Linked DNA regions of Homo sapiens: region 1 is linked to region 2. The links come from fine-mapping of genetic effects on gene expression. A gene starts in region 2. The other region holds a variant in brackets. All regions are shown on one strand. Distances are from middle to middle.

Region 1 (11,990 bases), 62 kb before region 2:
GAGTTCAAGTGATTCTCCTGTCTCAGCCCCCCGACTAGCTGGGATTACAGGCCCATGCCACCATACCCGGCTAATTTTTTGTATTTGTAGTAGAGACAGGCTTTCACCATGTTGGCCAGGCTGGTCTTGAACTCCTGACCTCAAGTGATCTGCCCATCTCGGCCTCCCAAAGTGCTGGGATTACAGGCATGAGCCACCGCGCCCGGCTGAAAGTCTTGACTTCATTTTTTAAATAACCCAACCAAACCACACATTTTGCTTTAGCATTGAAAATAAGCCGGGCACAGTGGCTCACGCCTATAATCCCAGCACTTTGGGAGGCCGAGGCGGGTGGATCACGAGTTCAGGAGATCGAGACCATCCTGGCTAACACGGCGAAACCCCGTCTCTACTAAAAATACAAAAAATTAGCCGGGCGTGGTGGCAGGTGCCTGTAGTCCCAGCTACTCAGGAGGCTGAGGCAGGAGAATGGTGTGAACCCGGGAGGCAGAGCTTTCAGTGAGCCGAGATCGTGCCACTGCACTCCAGCCTGGGCAACAGAGCGAGACTCTGTCTCAAAAAAAAAAAAAGAGAGAAAATAGGACAAAGCCAATCTTTTCCTCCAGGGAAGCTCTGTGTTCCAAATACAGGCATCAAGCATTAACTGTAGTACTTAGAAAAACTGTAGCTAGTAAAATAAAGAAAGTGGTTTTATAGTACTCTTGCACGTTACCAAAGATCAACCATTTAATTAAAACATTAATCTGAGAAATTAAGAATTTTCAGGACATTTGAAGTAATTTCAATTGATGTTCTTAACTAAAGCTGAAGTGTTGATAAGGTACAAAGAGGTCTTTTTTGAGTATTTTGCAGGAGAATTCAAGAAAATGAGAAGTTTTATGATTTTGGTTTTCATCATATGTTGCTTTCTAAAATGGAAATTGGTTCATTTTTTCTAGCTATAAATGTATTATGTGGGGTTTTTTTTTCTCCCAAACAATGCAAAAAGGTATAAATAAAATAAAAATCACTCTGTATTCTACATTCTGAGAAAATCGTTCTCAGCAATTTGGATAAGTATCCTTCCACTCTTTTTTTAAATATGTATATATGAGAGAGAGAGTGTGTGTGTCTATGTGTGTGTGTGTGTCTGTGTGTGTGTGTGTGTAAAGAGTGAGAGGAAGAGCATTGTTTTGTTTCTACGAAAATGTGATAAAAATAGAAATACCTTTTTGTAACCTACTTTCTTCATAGTTTATCATGGATATCTTTCCATGTCAATAAATAAATCATGGTTTTTAATGGCTACACAGAATATAATTCATATTTAAGAATTTCATACAGACTGATTTAAAAAAAAATTCAGAGACTTCCTGAAGCTCTAATCTTTTTCTTTTGAAGACAGTGTTCTTTAGTTTACTAGTGTCACAAGTGAAGCCTGTTTTAATTTTGGCTATTGATTTTGCTTCATTCTTTTGACTAGCATTTAATATTTACCTACTTTTGGAACCTTTCTCTCTGATGGATTGGGTGAACTGCCTGTCTTAGACATTGGGCCTTTATAATGTAGTTTACTGGGGGTAATTAATTTCTTTTCACCAAGAGTCTTACATCATGCACACAGGGGCATGCATGTAAGACTCTTGGTGTAAAGAAATTAAGTCTTTTTTTTTTTTTTTTTGAGACAGAGTTTCACTCTTTTGCCCAGGCTGGAGTACAATGGCGCAATCTTGGCTCACCACAACCTCCGCCTCCCAGGTTCAAGCGATTCTCCTGCCTCAGCCTCCTGAGTAGCTGGGATTACCGGCATGCGCCACCACGCCTGGCTAATTTTTTGTATTTTTAGGAGAGACCGGGTTTCTCCATATTGGTCTGGCTGGTCTTGAACTCCCGACCTCAGGTGATCTGCCCGCCTTGGCTTCCCAAAGTGCTGGGATTATAGGCGTGAGCCACTGCACCCAGTGGTGAAAAGAAATTAAAGGCAAAGTTACAGTTTAAGCTTAAGGAGGAGTATTTCCTGATGTTAGATGATGCTGAGGAGAGAAGCTCTTTTTTTTTTTTTTTTTTTTTTTTGAGATGGATCTCGCTTTGTCACCCAGGCTGGAATGCAGTGGTGTGTTCTCGGCTTATTGCAGCCTCTGCCTCCTGGGTTCAACTGATTCTCACGACTCAGCCTCCTGAGTAGCTGGGATTACAGGTACATGCCATGATGCCCTGCTAATTTTTGTATTTTTAGTAATACTCCCACTGCAGCCTCCCGAGTAGCTGGCATGCCACTATGCCCAGTTTGTAAACTGCTTGTAATTAGGTTAAACATTTAAATTGGATGCCGAGGGAATAGCATTATTCTTTAATAGATGAGCTTTGAAAACAGATTGGGTTCTTCAGGAATAAAGAGGCAGGGGATGACTTCTCAGACCTACTTCAGTCCTAAGATTGCTGGATCCAATTCACCTGTAACTTGTAATAGGATTCCACATTTAGGCAGTAAATGTAGTTTCTTGGAAATATAATCTTAGTTACTATTGCTGCCAAGTTTTAAAGTCCAGAATAATTGTTTTGTTTAGACAATTAAAATGGACTTCAGTAGTGTCCTTTTCAAGGAGAACTTTAGTTGATAAATCAAATGCATCTCAATTATTGTCTTATTCCAGTCATTGATTTCAATATAGGTTCTGGAGACTGAAGAAACATTGGAAATGCTGTCCTTTTCAAAATTAGGATATTATGTACAAAATTGCCATTTTAAATTTATTTGATTGTGTTAATAAATTATTAGATTTTGCTTAATCTTATCTCCAACAGAGGAATACGAAATAAACCTTAAACCAGGATGGGCGTTAGACTTTTCCTTATGGCTGCGGCACATAGATTTTTAATTCCTTAACCTAGAATCTTGAAGCTTAAAAGGAACTTTTTTTTTTTTTTGAGAGTCTCACTTGCCCTGTCGCCCAGGCTGGAGTGGAGTGGCGTGATCTCAACCTACTGCAACCTCCTCCTCCTGGGTTCCAGCAATTCTCCTGCCTCAGCCTCCTGAGTAGCTGGGATTATAGACACATGCCACCACACCCAGCTAATTTTTTTTGTATTTTTAGTAGAGAGAGGATTTTGCCCTGTTGGCCAGCTGATCTCGAACTCCTGACCTCAAGCGATCCACCTGCCTCAGCCTCCCAAAGTTTTGGGATTACAGACGTGAGCCACTGCGCCCGGCCTAAAAGGAACTTTAATTAAAGTCTTGGGTTTATCCCCTCACATTTCAGAATTTTTTCTTCAAAGATTTTTATCTCATCCTTCTAATTAGGATATAGGTGTTGAATCAATACTGTAGGTACTGTCTAGAGGCCTGTGATCAAATTCCAGGAACTCTTAAGTGCTATTCTTCCATTTAAGAAGCTTAAAATTGACCAGTCTGGACAACATGGTGAAACCCCATCTCTACCAAAGATACAAAAAATTAGCCAAGCATGGTGGCGGGCACTTGTGGTCCCAGCTCTTTGGGAGGCTGAGGTGGGAAGATTGCTGGACCCCGGGAGGCAGAGGTTGCAGATCACACCACTGCATTCCAGCCTGGGTAACAGAGTGAAACACAAAAACAAAAAAGAAGCTTAAAATTGAATGGATCTGAGATATGCATGTTATTCAAGCCTAAGTCAGTATTAAATGTCTGGGGCCCTTCTCATTAGGTTTGGGAACTTCTGTTACAGTTTGAGTAAGCAAGGGAGAGCCAAACATTTGAAATGCTTTTGATATTATAAAATAAACTTTAAAGAGACATCTGGCCGGGCGTAGTGGCTCGCACCTGTAATCCCAGCACTTTGGGAGGCCGAGGCGGGTGGATCACAAGGTCAAGAGATCGAGAGCATCCTGGCCAACATGGTGAAACCCCATCTCTACTAAAAACACAAAAATGAGCCAGGCGCAGTGGCAGGTGCCCGTAATCCCGTTTACTTGGGAGGCTGAGGCAGGAGAACCGCTTGAACCCGGGGGGCGGGGGTTGCAGTGAGCCAAGATCACACCACTGCACTCCAGCCTGGGCGATAGAGTGAGACTCCATCTCGAAAAATAAAAAAAAAAAAACACTAATGTTTGCAATGAATATCACTTACAAAGAAACTCTTGCAGCCCACTTCTAACTTGGCTGGTAACTTGCATTATAGATAATACTTATGAAAGTTATATTTTTCCTTTTATCAGCTTTGACTTAGCCAATCAGTTGCCACTGGTTGGTGTAGGAGCTGTAAATAAATTGTCAGAAACAAAGTTCATTTGTTCCCAGGCCATTTGTATTTGAGCCTTGCCAGAAATTCTTGGAGCGTTGACAGAGAATAAAAGAGCCTCTAACACATTCAGGAAACTTGGGCCAAGGGAGGCCCAAATATAAATATGTAATAATATGCGAGATCTTGTTTATAAGAAAATCCAGTTTACCTGCACCAGGATTTGTGATTAATTAACATGTTGTAGAGTGTTTCTACAATCAGAGAAGGAGTCAGTACTGCCTCCCGGTCTGCCACATGTACATTTACTATTTATTCATTTTTCTGTGTGTATAATATCCCACCCTTGATCCCAGCCTTCTAGATCTTAGTCCATTTAAATGTTAGTTCCGCTTAGCTTCTCATAAGTGAATTTGGTTTTAAATGCTCAATTACTTCATGGAACATGAAGTCAAAAGTACAGCTCTCTATCTTATGCATTTGGCATCAGAATGGTAAGCATTACATTCTTGTTATATCCGTTCTTATTAGAAACAAGATTTAATGTAGCCACTTCTGCTGTTTGTGCTTCCCTAGCTTTTCCTAGGAGTATCAGAATAGAGACAAAAAGATAGCCATGGGAGTCTCACCTCTGCCTTGCTAAATGGGTCATTTGAGCCGTGTAACTATGCCTCTTTTTCCCTTGGCCTGGCCATTTTGGAATGGTGACAGAGTTAACAGGAGGGAGACTCCAAGAACAGCAGCACTGAAAAAAAAGTTCCAAATAGAAATTTCTGACAAATATAATGAGCCAGTTGATGGATTAGAATTCTGTTTCTCTAAGGAATAGGGGTTATTTTATACAGAAGAATTTGCCTCCAGAGCACATTTTTCTGGCTTCAAAGATCTGTCATTTTGCCAGGTGGGTGGCTCACGCCTGTAATCCCACCACTTTGGGAGGCTGAGGTGGGTGGATCACCTGAGGCAGGAGTTCGAGACCAGCCTGGCCATCTGGCCAACATGGTGAAACCCTGTCTCTATAAAAATACAAAAATTAGCCAGGCATGGTGGCATGTGCCTGTAATCCCAGTTACTTGGGAGGCTGAGGCAGGAGAATCGCTTGAACCCAAGAAGCGGAGGTTGCAGTGAGCCGAGATCACGCCATTGCACTCCAGCCTGGGTGACAGAGGGAGACTCTGTCTCAAAAAAACAAAAAGAAAAGGCTGGGTGCAGTGGCCCGTGCATGTAATCCTAGCACTTTGGGAGGCCAAGACAGGTGGATTGCCTGAGTTCAGAGTTCGAGACCAGCCTGGGCAACATGGTGAAACCCCATCTGTACTAAAATACAAAAAAAAAAAAAATTAGCCGGGCGTGGCAGCATGTGCCTGTAGTCCCAGCTACCCAGGAGGCTGAGGCAGGAAAATTGCTTGAACCTGGGAGGTGGAGGTTGCAGTGAGCCGAGATCACACCACTGCACTCCAGCCTGAGAGGCAGAGCAAGACTCCGTCTCTTAAAAAAAAAAAAACTGTCATTTTAAAACTATTATTAACAAATGAAAGAAGAGTAGCCTAGACTATATAACTCGATGAGGGCATAGATCATGTCTCTCTCTTCTACCACTGAATCCTCAGCACTTGGCATTGTTATTGTATATATAATATATGTGTAATAAATATTTGAATGTGTTGCCTGTAGTTGTTTTATTTTTAAGGCTTATAAGATACCTTTTTGAACTTATCAAGGCTGGGCGCGGTGGCTCACGCCTGTAAACCCCAGCATCTTGTGAGGCCGAGGTGGGCAGACCACCTGAGCTTGGGAGTTTGAGACCAGCCTGACCAACATGGAGAAACCCCGTCTCTAATAAAAATACAAAACTAGCTGGATGTGGTGGCGCATGCCTATAATCCCAGCTGCTCGGGAGGCTGAGGCAGGAGAATCGCTTGAACTCGGGAGGCAGAGGTTGCGGTGAGCCGAGATCACACCATTGCACTCCAGCCTGAGCAACAAGAGCGAAACTCTGTCTCAAAAAAAAAAAAAGAAAAAGAAAAGAAAGAAAGAAAGTACATCCTCACAAACTCATTACTGAGCTTTTTTTTTTTTTGAACCAGAGTCTCACTCTGTCACCCAGGCTGGAGGGCAGTGGGGTGAT[CTCA/A]GCTCACTGCAACCTCCGCCTCCTGGGTTCCAGTGATCCTCCTGCCTCAGCCTCCTAAGTAGCTGGGATTACAGGCGTGCGCCACCACGCCCAGCTAATTTTTTTTGTATTTTTGGTAGAAACAGTGTTTCACCATGTTGGCCAGGCTGGTCTTGAACTCCTGACCTCTGGTGATCTGCCTACCTTGGCCTCCCAAAGTGCTGGGATTACAGGCATGAGCCACCGTGCCTGGCCATTACTCAGCTTTAATAACCATCAACCTTTTGTCTGATTTCTTTCATCTGTCCCCACTCCCTGTTAAATTTTTTTGTTGGAACATTTTAAAGTAAAACTCAGAAACCATGTCATTTCACTCCAGGTACTTAAGAAAAAGTCACAGTAACCACAATGCTGTTATTACATTAACAGTAAATCCTTAATTTCATCTAAGACCCTGTCCATATTCAGATTTTCTGAGGGTCCTTTTAAAATTTAATTAAGAATAAATTAAAACTTTTGACAAAAAATGAGAAGTTTCTAAAAATGCAATCTCCTTTCATTATCATCGAAACTGAAGAAAATCTTATAGTGCATTAACATGCAGGAATTCAGTATAGCAAAGTCAGTACTCCCCTTAGATGATGCTAATAGTTTGCTCCATATTATAATTGTTTGTGGGAATTGCATCTCTGAGACCAATGCTCACATTCATATACCTCACATTTCCCTCTTCAGTCTTTATTACACACTGTGGTAATTAGTATAAATTGCACTAATAACAAACATCTTATTGAGCATTTACTGTGTGCCAAGCACTGTGCTTTACTGTATTATTTTATAAGATTCTTAAAACAACCTGACAGTTAGGTATTATTATATCTCCCTCCAATTAATTTAGTAACTTACCAAAGTTTTTATAGCTAGTGTACGAGCTGAGATTTTAATTTATGTCTCCTAACTACTGGCTCTGCTGCCTTCGTGAGTATGCTTTAAGATGCTGATGAAAAAGGGTTGAAATGATCTGAAATTAATGTCCTAAATTTCATAATTTCTCTGTTGTCTGCTAAATTCCAGGCTGTAAGACTGGAAAGTACTTACCAGAATCGAACACGCTATATGGTAGTGGTTTCAACTAATGGTAGACAAGACACTGAAGAAAGCATCGTCCTAGGAATGGATTTCTCCTCTAATGACAGGTATGGTGGTACCATTTCAAAATGTGAAAACTGCTTTTTAAGTAACCTGTTCCAGTTGCTTTTTTTTTTTTTTTTTTTTAATGGGGACGGAGTGTCATCACTCTGTTGCCCAGACTAGAGTGCAGTGGCTCAATCTCGGCTCACTGCAACCTCCGCCTCCCGGGTTCAAGCGATTCTCCTGCCTCAGCCTCCTGAGTAGCTGGAATTACAGGTGTACACCACTATGCCAAACTAATTTTTGTATTTTTAGTAGAGATGGGGTTTTGCCATATTGGCCAGTTTCAAACTCCTGACCTCAAGTGATCCACCCACCTCAGCCTCCCAAAGTACTGAGATTACAGGCGTGAGCCACCGTGCCTGGCCCCAGTTGCCTTTTATCACAAAAATATCTTGTGCAGTTCTGCTGTTAAAGTACAAGACATAAAACTAAAGAACATAAGTATCTTAGCCACAGTCTTGAGAAACAAGAATGTTTAGTGAATGTCTTTGGTCGTGTGTTTCCAATTTACCATTATTCCATACCTTCATCTCATCTTTAGATAGTCACAATATAAAGCAAGTGGTTTCAAAGTTACATTTCCATGGAAAAAAAGCTGCCTTTTTATTTCTCTTTTTGAGACAGCGTCTCGCTCTGCTGCCCAGGCTGAAGTGCCGTGATGCAGTCACAGCTCACTACGGCCTCAAATTCCTCCTGGGCTCTAGGAATCCTTCCACCTCAGCCTCCTAAGTAGCTAGAAGTACAGGCATGCACCACCATACCCAGCTATTTGGTCTTTTTTTTTTTTTTTTCCTTATTTTTCTGGAGAGAAGATTTCCTTATGTTGGCCAGGCTGGTCTTGAATTCTTGGGCTTAAGCAATCCTCCCACTTCGGCTTCCCAAAGTGCTGGGATTACAGGCATGAGCCTTGCACCTGGCCTACTCTATTGTAGTCAGTAATGATTCACTTTGGTGATTCTAGGGCACCTACCCTTTGTGGTAGTATACCAGTAGTCCCAGATACAAAGAGATCCCACTTAAACTACAGTCTGTTTTGTTTAAACCTTGCTTTTACCAAATGCTATGCCTCCTTTTTCCTTCTATTGAGTTAAAAAGGATGGTGGGCGGGGCGGGGATGGGGTGGTACGGGATGGCTCCTTAAACTCAAAGCAGAACTTTTTATGTACCTTTGGCTTTAGCTGTACTTTACATTCTATGATGAAAGATGACACACAACACCTGGCCTTTTCGTGTGTCCTTAAGGTTTGTTGCTTTCCTTTTTTATTTTTCCCACTTTTTCTGGAGAAACCTTCGGAAGACTTTGGAATGTGGCTGCTAAGCAGATCTTTACGCTGTGGATAATTAGCCTCAGGAAATCCTGCCAGATGTCTCAAAGCATTGACTTCCTGGTTCAGGATTAGAATGGAACTATGGGGTAGCTAGGGGTGTGACCCAGGCCTAGGGAAATTTAGCCACAAAGAGAGGAGGAGCCTGGGAATGATTCTAATTTTCCTGATGTTGAGGGGAAAAAATCACTTTGTCACTAGAAAGTTTCCCAAACCAATGTTTACCTTATTCCTATATAGAAGTCAACCTGAAAATGACTTGGGGGTTCACAGGAATTCCCAAAGCCAAAGTTATTAGCTTGTATACCACTTAACAGCATTTAATTGTAGGCTCTGAATTTACACAGGCTTGTAAACCAGATTTAGGAAGATTTCTCCTGCATGGTTTTAACTTCTGATTAAGCAACAGAGCTTTCAGTAAGCATTTTCCTATAACAGCACCTACCTTGTTTACATTCATTAGGATTTTAGGACCTCTAATTTAGGTTTTTAATCTTTCTAGATCTGTGTTGTCCAGTATAGTAGCCACTAACCATATGTGCCCCTTCCTTCCTTCTTGCCTGCCTGCCTTCCTTCCTTCTTTCATCTTCCTTCCTTTTCTCTTCTCTTCTTTTCTTTTTTCCTTTTTGTGAAGAACACAGTCTCTCTGTGTTGCCCAGGCTGGTCTCAACTCCTGAGCTCCTGCCTCTGCCTTCCTGAGTGCTGGGATTATAGGCATGAGCCACTGCATACAGCATGCACGTGTCTTTTTAAATAGATTAAAATTAAATGAAATTTCAATTCCTCAGTTCTAACTAGTCACATTTCAAGTATTCAGTAACCGTATGTGCTAGTGGCTATCGTATTAGACAGTACATGTATAGAACATTTTCCATTCTTGCAGAAAGTTCAGTTGGACAGCACTGTTCTAGCTCATATTTCCTTTGTTCAGTTCTCCCTGACCCCCTCCCTTGAAAACCCTATAAAACAGGAACAGGAACCTCATGAAGCTTCAATTGAATCTTCCCCTAGAGACAGAAGACAATAACTGCAGATTCTCCTGACCCAGAATATGAGCAAGCACATGTCTAATCATTTCTCTTTCACTTTGTCCTAAACTTTACCAGAAAGAATGCATATTAATATAGGTATCCAGTAGTTTATACTCAGTAAATTACATCTATCTTTTGCCAATGGCCCTGTCTGAATCATATCTGACCAGTGTCACTAGCCAAAGGAAATTATAGTTTATAGAAGACAAACTTAAAACATGAAAAGCTAGAAACTAGTTTTCATTCTGTTTGCTAAACTTGCTATTATGAAATTCCCATACATCCTCTGCTTTAATGAGTTCCTTGGACAGTAAGAAGTCTCAGATGCTCAGGTAATCTAAAATCATTTCTGTCTCAGTTGTTGTTGAAGGAATTTGAATTTGTATCATTTCATATCTGAGAATGTAAATGTTAATGCTTCAAAATAGTATTAAGCCAAAGTGGAACCCAGATTATGACAAGTACAAATAGTTCTTAATAATACGTTGCAGCCAATTCATTTAGCCCATTTACAAGTTCTTTGAGTATTATGTTATATTTTAATAATTTTTTAAATATGCAGCATAATCTTGGTTTCTAAAGTGTAACATATTTTAAGTTATAAAATAATAGAGCTTCATGGTTTTTTGGGGTTTTTTTTTTCCATTTCTTTTTGTACCCCTAACACCTTGAAATGTCTGGTACATAGTAGGCACTAAATAAATTTTTATTGAATGAATTGAATATTTACTAAAATAAGTAGTTATACTTAAATGGAGAAAAATCTTGAGAGACTGAGGTAACCTGGATAAAAATACCAAGCGTGCCTTATTCAGTCCTTTCCTTCCTGTTGCGTGAAAAAGCTACTTTTTTTTTTTTTTTTTTTTTTTTTTTTTTTGAGACAGTCTCACTCTGTGGCCAGGCTGGAGTACAGTGGTGCAATCTCAGCTCACTGCAACCTCCGTCTCCTGGGTTCAAGCGATTCTCCTGCCTCAGCCTCCCAAGCAGCTGGGACTACAGGCGCACACCACCATGCCCAGCTAATTTTTGTATTTTTAGTAGACGGGGTTTCACCATGTTGACCAGGATGGTCTCTATCTCGACCTCGTGATCCGCCCGCCTCTGCTTCCCAAAGTGCTGGGATTACAGGCACCACGCCCTGCTGAAAAAGCTACTTCTTAATGTAAAAAAGCACTCTGGCCTGAATACAAGCCAAAAATGTAATGTCGATTCCTGTATATCAATGTCACTTGTCCAAAGGTTAACCAAAATCTGGTCACAAGCTTATAGATCACACTCTTTTGCAGCTTCTGTATCTTTTTATATAGTTAATTTCTAGATTTGTCATTGGGCTACCAACCCACCATATTTATACTCAAAATTATACTTGTTGCTAAGAACCTGGCTAAGCACTCACTAAATACAAAACAAAAAGCTACTGTAAAACTATCCCCACTTCATCTTGGGAAGCCGTTTTCAAAACAAATTTTTTTGTGCGCTCATCTCATCTACTCAACAAAACTTGTGGTAGAGCTGTCTTGCTCCTGGACTCTGGCATGGTAGCTGTGTTTCTGTTGTTCAGGTCCAGGTTCTAATGTGGATAAGCTGTTTCAGTCTTGATTTGAATCTCCTGAGCTCTGGAATCACTCTTTTTTTTTTTTTTTTTTTTTTTTTTTTTGAGAGGGAGTCTTGCTGTGTCTCCCAGGCTGGAGTGCAATGGCGCAAATCTCAGCTCACTGCAACTTCCACCTCCCAGGTTCAAGTGATTCTCCTGCCTCAGCCTCCCGAGTAGCTGGGATTACAGGTGTCTGTCTGCCCCTGCACCCAGCTAATTTTTGTATTTTTAGTGTAGAGATGGAGTTTCGCCATGTTGGCCAGGCTGGTCTTGAACTCCTGACCTCGGCCTCCCAAAGTGCTGGGATTACAGGCATGAGTCACCGTGCCTGGCCTGGAATCACTCTTAAGGTGTTAAGCAGCACAGGCCAGCAAGTGTAGTGGAAAGCCCAACTAAGGGCTAGCCTCCTTTAACCCTGCAGTGACTAACAGTTAAAGTTTGGTATTCATTATGTTGTTTTTAAAGCATAATGGTTTCCCCTTCCCCCAATCACTTTCAGATATATTAGAGCACCCATTACAGATTCATATTCAACATTTG
Region 2 (11,990 bases):
ATGTACATAATATTGTCACTGTCTTAGTGTCTTGTTCATGTTGTAGGGTAATTTTGATTTATTCTTTTTAAGAAGGAGTAGAGTTGCAACTGGAAAACACAGACACCAGAAATGAAAGTGTTGGGTGTTGATAGGAATCTGTACAATATGTTGATGGTGGCTGTAGTTGTTTAAATGGAGACTTCCAATCACCAGCTCCTGCCAAATTATGCATTAGTAACTTTTTCCTCAGAGACACCCCTAAAGGCTCCCATTAGGTCACAGCGTGACTGAAAGCTGATTTCTCTGTGAGACTGAAATCCCAGAACATTGTTTGCCAGTATCTCAACCACAGCCAGGAAGTATATGTGAGTTGCCCAGAGTGGAAGCTCCTAGTAGAGGCTGAAGGCCACAGGGGAGGCCTCAGCCAGGGGCAAGTGCCCACAGTGACTCCATTTAGGATGCTGTCGTTTTGCTACTGTTGTGGAGATCCTTAACGCAGCAGCGCCTGTCATAAACAAGCCTCTTGTAGCTTCTTACAGAAAACAGATTTAGTCTAGCATGAAACACCTCTGCATCTCATTGAAACTGAAGAGGCTTGCAGATTTGCTTTCGTTGATGTCCACGTTACTGAGGATTGACTGAGTATAGACTGGAGACAGGTTTTTGGCTTATCACAGCACTGAGGAAAATACAAATGCACAGACTGTCAGCATGATGTCAGAGGCCAGAGTTTGGTGGGGGCAGATGGCAGGGCGACCCAAAAGATGCAGAAAAGGTAGACTGGGGCCACTGGGTCTTAAGAGGAGCTGTGAAGTTGTGTGGAAGCCAAGGCTGGGTCTGACATCCCTGCCAGGAAGCAGGTTGGACAGAAACCACTTGCTAAAAGCGTCTCTATGGTGCAGTGATTATGTGTACCCTGTGCTGTTGCTCAGTAGTCTCCTTGAATGTTCAAGTATCTCATCCACTCAGTTTTGTGATTCCTGGATATTTGTGTGTTGTAAAGTGTTTTGTTAGGTGGTATGAACCAATGTGAGGAGGCTTGAGACAGGGTTATGGATTTCCAGAGCTCTTCCATGTAGAATACCCTGCCTTCTTGAAGCAGTTCCACCACCAATATGATGGGGAAGGGCAGGAACTTATGGCAGGGTGGGGAGAGGGTTTGCCTGGAAGTTAAGAGAGTGGCATCCACTTGTGGTAACCCCTTACGATGATGACATCCCACACACTAAGAGGTACAAGCAGGACCAAAGTTTTGGACTGTTCCCTCTTCTCCCCTCCACTGTGTTTAATGTTCACTCACTGCATTAAATAACAACAAAGATGGGACAAAACCCACTAATACTGTGGGGAAAAAAAATTTTCAAGAGCAGAGGAAAGTCTTTCTGCCTTTTTATAATTACTTTTTTTATCATTTAATTTACCTGCCTAAATAAACATCTTCTACAGAATATCTGTCATTCAACCATGCCAAGGAGTTTGTGCCAGCCTTTTCAGACTCCCAGAATTGGGTGTTCCTGGGTTATTTACATAGCTGAGCAGTGTCCAGGGGAGGTGCGCAGTGAACTGTCAAGGACTTTCCAGACTGTCTTCTCTTCAGACTTTTATAATCTCCAGTGGCATCTTTCCCTTTTCTTTTGTTCATGACCTGACCTGAAGCAGCAGATTTGATAGACTGGCAAAGATGAATAGGAAAAACTTTGACTCTTGCCCAGTGCCTGCCTGCCTCTCTCTCTCTCCTCTCTCTCTCTCTCTTTTTAAACCACCATAGACTCTCACTTATTTTGGAGGAGTGTATGTGCATGTGTACACATATGTACATATATAAAAACAGTTGATGTTTTGGTGTATGGGGTAAAAGCCCCAGGAGCATACAGAACTTGAGCTGAACCTGGTCAGTAGAAAGGGAAACCCCAACCCTTTCTTGATTTTTGGAGACACCCAGGACTAATGGATACTGTAGTAGACATGTAGTACTATAGTACCGTAATATTCATCTCTCCTCATTTTAGTTGCCTTTCAGATTCTAAATGTTTGGGATCATTCCTATCATCTTAGTCTCTTCAGGATCTTTAGTATTTTCCTGGTTCTGAGGAGGCTTGAGACAGGGTTATGGATTTCCTTGTTCTGTGTCTTTATCCCTACTGATAGTTCCTCTTTCTCATTTTGCAAACTACCCAGAGCTCCAAGGACAGCCTGAAGATCTCAGTGCCTCAGGCTCTGAGGTACTCTGCTCACAGGCCCCAGACAGATGCTGTTGGGTAAACTCAAAGCTTCCTATGAGAAGCTTCTGAGATGTAGCAGGTCACAGAAGTGTTCACCTGTTTCATCTGAGGATTTCAGTTCTGAAGTGATCTAGGCATGTTTGGTAAAAATGTTTTTGTGAGAGTTCTTTTTTTAAGAAAGCATTATGCAAAAAGTCACTTTTAAGGGCATTTAAAAATTTTTAAGTAAAGCCATTCTTTGGCTTTTTTGGACTATTTGTGGATACTTTGTTTACATTTTGAATATTAAAATGTGCATCATCTTGTCGGCCATGCAGTCCTGCAGGCATCAGTGCCCTGGCTGTCCTGTGAGTCCTCATGCAGAGCAGGGCCATCATGGTCAGCCCTTGTGAGTAAGTGGGTATACGCTGAAGCTGACTTCCGTCTGTGTCCTGCCCTCCCATCCAGCACTCTCTATGGAAATAGTTGTCATTTCCTCAGTGATGGTGTGTCTTATAGTGATGGTTGTAATGGTGAATGGCTAGTGTCATTTTGTTTAATTTTGTTTTGCTTTTTGATGGTGGATAAGATGAAATTTTAGCTGTTTCAGCATCAATCCAACTTAAAAGCATCTTGGACTTTGTTTTCCCTTCCAAACTAAAAGATCAAGGCATGTATTAGACACAAGCATATTTGCTGCCTCAACTCCTCTGACACCCATATTAGGAAAAGGCCTGCCACCAAAGCAGGAAGCTGCACACTCCTAACCCTTCTCCCAGGGTGTGGGGTCCCTTGACGTCATGAAGAGCTATTGCAAGGTGCTTCTGTACTTTTCCAGCCTGGAAATGGAGGGTGACTGGCCCTGGCTCCTGCTATGAGAAGATAACCAGCCTCATTTTCTCAGTGCCCCAGAGGTCTAGGATAGGATTTCTAAACTGGAATCATCCTTAATCACCTTGAAGATCCCTTAAGAGGCATTTGACTGGTGCTGCCGTCTGTGTCCTCAAAGCAATGCTGGTGGCAGCGTCCTGTGTACACATGCAGAGCTAATACCCAAACTAAAAACTGGGTAACTGGCCCTGAAGTGCTTCCCAATCAGTAAGCCCACAGGGAAATGTTTGATTTTTATGTTCTGTTGGATTTTGGTTTGCTTGGCATATCTAAAGGTGCCTTTACTTTTCTTTTTTTTTTTTTTTCTTTCTGCTTTGTTTTGTAGGACTTGTTCTAACATGGAAAACAAGTCCAGAAGACTCTCCTCTGACTGTTACCTTTGCCCCAAGCCACCCCAAACTTTTATGCTCATGTTTTATTAAAGCAGGTGCTCCCTGGAATCTCTGGGACATTTTTGAGGCATTTGAAGCAGAATATAGAGTGGTCTCATCTCCTTCCTTAATCTTCCTGGTGGTTGGGATGTTCCACTTGTATCATAGATTTTTTTATTACAGATATGCTCCACTGTTTTTAAATGTGAACTTGTGCGCAAATGTGCAGATTCAATGTTCTTGTTACAGATTGAATAAATTTTTATTTTGAAGATGAAACGTGTACTTCATCAGATGCAACAAAGGAGGGAGGTGCTGGAGAAGGTGGGAGAGTCAGAAGAGGAAACACAGTGAACACCAGTAGTTTTCAATGATTGATCCCAGTCATGTCACCCTGAAGAGAGAGCTGAGTCCCCAGAAATAAATGAAACACCTCAGCCCACTGAAAAATGTCTAGAAATGGGACATGAACATCATGAGATATTTAGTGGTGCCATTCATCACATACAAGGCAGGACTACCATCTAGGGAGAGCTCAGTTTCCAGTTCCCAATTGCTAACAAAATTTGAAGTCCCCGCCCCCCTCAAAAAAAAAAATCACTGCCTTGAACTAAAGTCAGCCTGCTTCATTCTGAATCATCCATATCAAGTGGGAGGGGCACAGTGCTGGTCTTTAGCTGGAGTGCATGACGGTGAAGGTAAGGTCTTTCACAAAATATTCTAAGGATCCCTGGGATCCCTGACCAATCTAGATAAGTTCAGTCTTGGTTTTCTAGCCAAAGCAGATGGACCAAATCATGGCTAAGTTGCGAGCTACCTCATCCAGAAAATGGCTTCCTAAAAGATGAAATCCATGGCTGTCTTCTATGGATTGCCGTTCAGAGCTAACAGTTCAAAAGGGAGGCACGAAGCCCAAGTAGCTTCTCTCCCTGATTGGTTCTTCCTGCCTTAACTCTGCCCACTCACAGCTCTGTCAGGCCTTGGCAGCCAGAAGAAGGCTAGAGGGCAGGGCTGAGCTACGCCAGGCCCAAGCAAATATCTGAATCCCTGTACCCAGAAAGCACTGCTCTTCCTAGATGATGGAACTGAAGGGAGCACGCATTGAAGGATTCCTGCTTCCTAGTCCCAAGCGCTTCCCTCTAGAAGGGAGTCTCCTGTTCTCTTTAAAGAGAAGGAGGGTGGGGGTAGGGGAGATGCCACTTCAGAGGAGGCAGCACATAAAATCCCTACTCTGCTAAGGAGTGGTGCAGAGTTGGAAAGAATCTGACCCAATCCTGTTCAGAGAGCTGTAAAAATATGGCGATTGAGCCAGGACTGGAACCAGTTTTTTAATTCATTCCAGGCATCCTTTCCTCTGTGCCACACAGTATAAACTCTCAGTTACGTTTTAGCTCAGCACTTGTGAGATAAAGTGGCACTGTCCTTCAGGGAGAGACAGAAATGCATGCTGCTGAAAAGCAAGAACCAGATGCCAGACCACGTGGGTAAGAATCATAGCTACATCAACTACCAGTTGAGGTTGTGATGGGTAAGCCACCTAACCTCTTTGTGGCTCCATTTCCTCAACTGTTAAATAGGGATAACAACAGTACCCACCTTAGAGGATTGTTTTTTGGTTTTTTGTGCGTGTGTTTTATTTGAGACAGAGTCTCATTCTGTCACCCAGGCTGGAGGGCAGTGGCATGATCTCAGCTCACTGCAACCTCTGCCTCCTAGGTTCAAGCAATTCTCGTGTCTCAGCCTCCTGAGTAGCTGGGATTACAGGTGTGCATCACCACACCTGGCAAATTTTTGTATTTTTAGTAGAGATGGGGTTTTGCCATGTTGGCCAGGCTGGTCTCGAACTCCTGACCTCAGGTGATCCACCTGCCTCAGCCTCCCAAAGTGCTGGGATTACAGGCGTTAGCCACCCGCGACCAGCCTAGAGGATTGTTAAGAGTATGAAATTAATACGTATAAAGCCCTTAGTGCCAGTGCCTAGCACATAAGCATGGGTTATTGTTGTAAAGGAGCAACTGAGTCACTCAGGTATTTTCCTCCTAATCATGTGCCTGGAATCTTTAGGTAAAAGAGAGATGACTCACATACCCTCATACCCTGCCCCAGCACCCCTACGCCAGGAGTTATTTCTGGAGCACTCGTAACAGTTTTTTATTCTGTTCCCCTACAAGCCACTGACTCTTGATTTGATTCTGTCCCTACAAGCCACCTGGACTCTTCCTGAGAAACAAAGGAGCCTCGTGGGCCCTTCATGGTTTCTACCACCTTCCCTCCCTTTCCTCCCCAGTGCTGGTTCCTGCCCTTCAGAAGGCTGTGTTCCATTCACTCACTCCCAGGTGTGCCCTGGAGGGTGGGAAGTAATAACTGGCCCCAGATGCCCTTATGATCCAAGGGAAGAAATCCAGGCAATGTGCAGACACTGGGTAGACTGGAGCTACGGGACTGGCTGGTCTTCACTGGCTGTATTTTGATCAGGTTATCTTTAATCTCCTTGACCTCGGTCAACATTCAGTTCTGTGAATATTGGGGGAGACGGGGGAAGCTTACCTGGAACACAGTCGGGCGCCAATTCAAACAAGGCCCAGAAAACATTAGGAGTCTGGCCTCTGAGTTGGCTTCTCTGACCCCTAAAATGTGACTAGAGACCGGTGCTAGCCTCTTCCCCCTGCATCTGGGAGGGGAGGGAGTGTCAAGGTGGGTTCACTTTACACTCGGTCCTCCCCTTGTTCTTTCAGCTGCTTCCTGCCCTGCTCCATGGAATCTCATCTAATGGGGTGAAATGCCTAGCACACAGCCAGCATTTTAGGTTTCTCAAATGATCGCTATTGCCATTCATAACAATAACTAACATTCACAACCCTGTGTCGGGTGCCCTCTCACTTGCCCTACATCAGGATCAGCCTGGGTCCTCATTCTCTAGGGCCTCTTTCCCCCAGGGAGGCCTGGAAGTGCAGTCCCGCAGTCCCGGCCGATCGGGACAGCTAAATTGGGAGCGCGATTGAGGCTGGAATGCGGGTGGAGGCACCTGGTCTCCCTCGGCTGCCCGCTCTAGGGGCGCACGCCCCCTCGCCCGTTCCCTCTCCAAGCGTCCTGCTCTAGGTCTGCGAACCCGAGCCTCCCCAGCCTACCCGGGAGTCATGGAGGGAGGGAAGCAGCGTGCGCACCTAGCACACAGCTGCACATTTATTTTCGATGGTTCTCCGAGGCCGGCGGAAGCTGGGAGGGGAGTCGGGGTCGCTCGACTTTCCCGCCGCTGGAGGGGGCGGGGCAACTTGGGCTCTGGCCCCGCCCCTATGCTAGCCCCGCCCTCTTAGGTTGATGGCAGCGGCAGCTGGGGCTGCAGCGGCGCCGGGCTCTAGAGAGCCGCAGGATCGGCCAGAGTGCGGAGCTGGACACCCGGGTCCCAGATACTACAGACACCCGGAGAGGTGGCTCCTTCGCCCTGAAGCCTTCCTCGGCCCCCTACGCACTCGGGCCCCTTCCGCAGAGGATTCGCAGCGTGAGCGCCCCGCAGCCCGCTCAGGACCAGGTACCCAGCCCCCCACACCCGGCCGTCACCGCAGCCAGCGGAGCGGGCGGGGTCCCTGAGGGGCAGAGGTCTGCGCCTCCTCCCCCCGCGCCGCCAAATTCGGTTTCGGGCGGGGAGGACGTGGTGTCTATATTTGGCCGGACAGCAGCCAGCGCTCCCGGAGGGCGCAGACACCTCGTCTCGCAAGAACGCAGTGTCAGGGCAGCAGGCTGAAGAAGGGTGCAGGGAGGCCGGGCCTCAGGCTCGGGGCCGCAGACGCGCCTTGAAGGGCACACGGATGCTGGGGCTGGGGTGGGGCAGGAGCCACTGGCTGGGGCTTTGGGAGTGCTCAGTGTGTCCTCTAGGGAGACCCTAGCTGGAGAAAAGGCACCTCACCCTCCCCACCCCTGCAAATCTGGCTTGGCCGTGGCGGGGGCAGGGGTGGAGGATGGGGTTGAAGACCCCACCCCTAGAAGAGTTCACTAGGAAGAAGGCCCAACCAGGGCAGAGGACCCAGAGGAGAAACCGGACAAGCCTATGGTAGGCAAAAGCCAGAAGACCATGATCAGGGCTTCCTGGAGAAGCCAGTGCAGAAAGGAGTGGGAGAAGAGGGATCCACCTCACTCTGTGCTGCCACCCGTCCCCCCACAAGGCATGGGATGAAAACAGTAGCAGAAAGGACTCAGATTGGTGGACAGGAGGAACTTCCCCCTTGGCAAAATTTTAGGAAAAGGCAAAACCCCATCTGCCTGAACTATTCCAGAGATGCGAGTTCGGTATCCTGTGGTGGCTGCAGTCTTGGCCCCATACCTGGCTTTAAGCCAAGATCCAATGGTCAAGTCTTCTGCTTCTGGACAGGGTGCCTCTGGGAGCTACAACCACGTCCGTGAAGAGATGCTCATCAAGGCTGGCGGTGGTGGGGGCGGGGGGTGCAGGCAGTGTGGCATTGAGGCTCCTCCCAAAAACATTCCAACGTCCAGAAAGCTTTCAGTCTGTTAGGCTCCACAATCCCCTCAGCCTGGGTCTCTGTGGAGAATTCAGGCCCCAAATCCTAGCCACTTACATTAAACAGCATTTTACACAGCAAAATAACTTTCCCATACTTTGACCACCTTGAAGAAAGCTCCCTGCTTCTAGGACCAGACACTATATGGATTTATACCTGACTCCTGACCACATAACCCTTCTCATCAGCCACCCCTCCACTCCTCCTCCCTCCCGCAGCTCACAGGACTAAGGACCAAAGGCATTTCTGGGCACTGAGATCCTACCTCTCTGCCTGCAGCTATGAGCAGACGTGTGGTTCGGCAAAGCAAGTTCCGCCATGTGTTTGGGCAGGCAGCAAAGGCCGACCAGGCCTACGAGGACATCCGTGTGTCCAAGGTCACATGGGACAGCTCCTTCTGTGCCGTCAACCCCAAATTCCTGGCCATTATTGTGGAGGCTGGAGGCGGGGGTGCCTTCATCGTCCTGCCTCTGGCCAAGGTGAGGGATCAGGGAAAGGAAGCAAGTGGGAGGACACTAGCTGGGGCCCCTGGGAACTCCTGAGCCTTTGTTCTCACCTAGTTCCATTCCATAGTCAGGAGAAGCATCTGTGTGGATTGGCTCCTCCCTATTCCCCAAGCCCTCAAGGACCAGAGGGGAGGCCACCCCACCCCACCCTAACATCAGGGTGGCTTACTCCCACTCCCTAGCCCTCCCACCTCTCCATGCACCACCCCATTCCCAGCAGGGACCAGGAGGGGAGCCGGGTGATGGAGATGGTTGGGACACAGCACAGCCAAGCCTGGCCAGATTCCATCACTGCCTCTCCTAATGCCGCATCCCCTCATGTTTTGGGTGTGGAGAACCTCCTCCCTAGCCCAAGATGACCATTTGATTAAGTCACATCCCAGAGCAGCAAACTGAGGACAGGGTCAGGCTCTATCCAAAGAGTCCCTGGTTACCTCCAAGGACACTTGCAGTGAAGTAGAAAGAAAGGGAACGGAAAGGAAGGGGGACATGACACATAAAGCCAGAGCCCTCCCTACCCTCAGGATGGGGACCAGGCAATGACTACCACGTTAGCTTCATAACCTTAAGCCCCTTGACCATCCACATCCCAAGGATGACTCTCCCCCAACCCCCAAGGTATGACCTTGACCTGGATTCTGGCCCCTACACCTTGTTAGGGTAGGCTCCACAGGTGGCGGGGTCAGGAAGAGGCCTGAAAAAGCCAGTGACTCACCCCAGACAATGCAGACATCATCCTGGGACACAGCCCCAGGGCTCAAATTTCAGCCGGAGCTGCCTCCTCCCCCAATATGTCTGCTCTTTCAGTACCACATAGCCACCCTCTCCCCCGCTGCCTGGTCTGGACCAGTGTCTGCCCCTGCAGAGGTCTCAGAACCCCCACAAGCAGCCTGTGAAGACCAAAAAATAGATGGGCCCCCAGCTCCCATTTGGGGATAGTAGGCACCAGGACTGCTTGCTGCTTGTGGTTCCAAGGTAAAAGTGGTTCACAAGGAAGAGATCTGCCAAGGGAGGCCAGGAAAGGGCTGTCCAGCACTACACTATTATCTCACCTTGACCTCTTCCACCAGGAGATTCCCACAGACACTTCAATAGGAGAACAGGCTGAAGAACAGCCTCCTCCAAGTAGGTGTCTTTGGAAGAGCACTGGGCTGGAAAGTTCAAATCTCAGCTCTACAAGTATCTTGTTGTGTGTCCTTGATGAGGCCATCTTACCTCTCTGTGTCACAGTCCCTAATATTAAATTATTTCAACTCTGCCTTCAGTAAAGTGCAGGAAGTGGACTGGATGGGGTTAGAAGTGCAGAGAGGGATCTGCAAAGAGAAAATAGGTAATAAGGAATCGAGATGTAAGCAGATCTGCTACCCACTCCCCAAAAAACACACAGGAGAGTAGCCCCACATCTTCTTCTCCAACCCCTCAGACAGGGCGAGTGGATAAGAACTACCCACTGGTCACTGGGCACACTGCCCCTGTGCTGGATATTGACTGGTGTCCACACAATGACAACGTTATCGCCAGTGCCTCAGACGACACCACCATCATGGTAGGAGCCAGGTGGCTACTGCTGGGCAGTTGAGCAGGGGAGCAGGGAAGGCTGCCTCACCTGTGCTGGGGAAGGTGCTAAGGGTGGTAATAAGGGAGGTGCTGGGTCCCAGGGCCCTGCCCTGCCCAGCTCCTGGACTATTTTTAGCTACATGCCCACCCCCTCCCAGGATGCACTGCTTAGGACTAATTATAGCCATGGCCAACTTGGTGCCTGGAGAGCAGCAGGGCAGTGCTCTGAAGTCTCCCTGCTGGAGTGAATGGGAGGTCTCTGGAGAGCTGGCAGTGCCCCCTCCTGGCTCCCAGCTGCTTCTGTTCTAGGCATGCACCACCACATCTTGCCCTGTATTTGACCCTTACCACTCAAGAGAGCCAGTAGGGTTAAAAAAAAAGGTAGGGAAGGAGTGGAGGGACAGGGTGGCTCCTCATTCCACCCACCATATACCTTTTCTTCCTACCCAGGTGTGGCAGATTCCAGACTATACCCCCATGCGCAACATTACGGAACCTATCATCACACTTGAGGGCCACTCCAAGCGTGTGGGCATCCTCTCCTGGCACCCTACTGCCAGGAATGTCCTGCTCAGTGCAGGTCTGGGGGCTAAGGAGGGGTCCCCCATAGATGGGTGGGTGGTGGCAAAGGTGGGACCCAGGTGACCATGCCTGGCCACTCTGGGCAGGTGGTGACAATGTGATCATCATCTGGAATGTGGGCACCGGGGAGGTGCTGCTGAGCCTGGATGATATGCACCCAGACGTCATCCACAGTGTGTGCTGGAACAGCAACGGTAGCCTGCTAGCCACCACCTGCAAGGACAAGACCTTGCGCATCATTGACCCCAGAAAAGGCCAAGTGGTGGCGGTGAGTGCCTGGCCTGGCCACTCCCCAGAACCCCTTGACCAGTGGCCAGCTGTCAGCACCCTTGTACCCACCATTATCAGAGCCCCTGGTCCCGGCTTTCACCTGTCGCATCCCTGCTCCAGAGACTAGCCCCCTTCCCCCGTCTCTGCAACCACAGGTCTCTGCCCTAAGTAAGCCCCCAGCCTGCAATTCTCTGCCCGGCTCCTGTTCCCTCCCCTCCCTTGCATCTCAGAAGCTCAGAGAAGGGCTCCTCGCTTTGGGATTGAGGAGGGGAGAAGCTGGAAACTCCATCCTCCCACCAGAACCTGCATGAAACCTGAGCTCCTGGACCCCTCTCCTCTCAGCCGGCACCCAGACGCATCTTCCAGGGTCTGGGGCCTGACACTGGCTCGAGGGCTGGCCCTTTCTCCTTGTGGACCCGCTGGGCGGGGGATGGGGCAACCCTCGCGCGTTGCTTATCCCAGCCGGATGCCCTGGGAGGGCGGCGGCCCTGGCCTCGCCAGCCTCAAGTCTAACCTGGGGTGCGGGTGCGTGGGCCGCGTGCATGTCTGCGTGGAGCAAGCGCGCCGAGAGCGGTCGGGGCTGGCGCCGGGGCGCTCTAACCCACTAACCCGGCGAGCAGGAGCAAGCCCGGCCTCACGAGGGCGCCCGCCCGCTGCGGGCTGTCTTCACCGCAGACGGGAAGCTGCTCAGCACCGGCTTCAGCAGGATGAGTGAGCGGCAACTCGCGCTCTGGGACCCGGTAGGCCAGGCCGCGCCGGGCGCGCTAGCTCGCTCCTTCTCTGGGTCTGCCGGGAGCGCCTTCCCGGGCTGTGGCTGGCGCCCAAGAGGCCAGAGCGGAGCGGGGAGCTCCCATTCGGGAAAAGCCTCGCTGCGACTCCGGGGAGCCAGCAGACACCCCTGCTCTAGGGATCGGCCTTTGAGCGCGCTTAAGGGTTCGGGATCGGCTGAGAGCCGCGTGCCTCCTGCTCTCTCCAGGCCCGGATGCTCTCCAGGTCAGGGGCCAGACGTGGCCCCGCAGGAAGCTGAGTGCTTAGGCCCCATTTGTCTCTTCCCCGCATCCGCTCCTCCACCCCGGACACCCAAGTCAGCAAGCTGGTTGCTCATCCCTCCATGCT

What was found.
Region 1: its variant is fine-mapped to the expression of CORO6 in whole blood (TOPMed, PIP above 0.99).

Annotation. Positions count from the first base shown.
Region 1 is chr17:29,680,075-29,692,064 of GRCh38, reverse strand. It overlaps SSH2 (slingshot protein phosphatase 2), which reads left to right. Exons shown (of 16, transcript NM_001282129.2): 6 at 7,381-7,502. Among named protein-coding and RNA genes, the nearest start is that of SSH2-AS1, 47 kb to the right of the region's middle. The variant CTCA/A (reference allele first, on the strand shown) is at 6,325.
Region 2 is chr17:29,617,672-29,629,661 of GRCh38, reverse strand. It overlaps CORO6 (coronin 6), which reads left to right and starts at 6,750. Exons shown (of 11, transcript NM_032854.4): 1 at 6,750-6,974; 2 at 8,178-8,438; 3 at 9,889-10,011; 4 at 10,473-10,602; 5 at 10,691-10,872. The coding sequence starts at 8,241. It overlaps SSH2 (slingshot protein phosphatase 2), which reads left to right. Exons shown (of 16, transcript NM_001282129.2): 16 at 1-3,724. RefSeq lists enhancers at 4,950-6,149, 9,057-9,351 and silencers at 6,937-7,086, 10,329-10,398.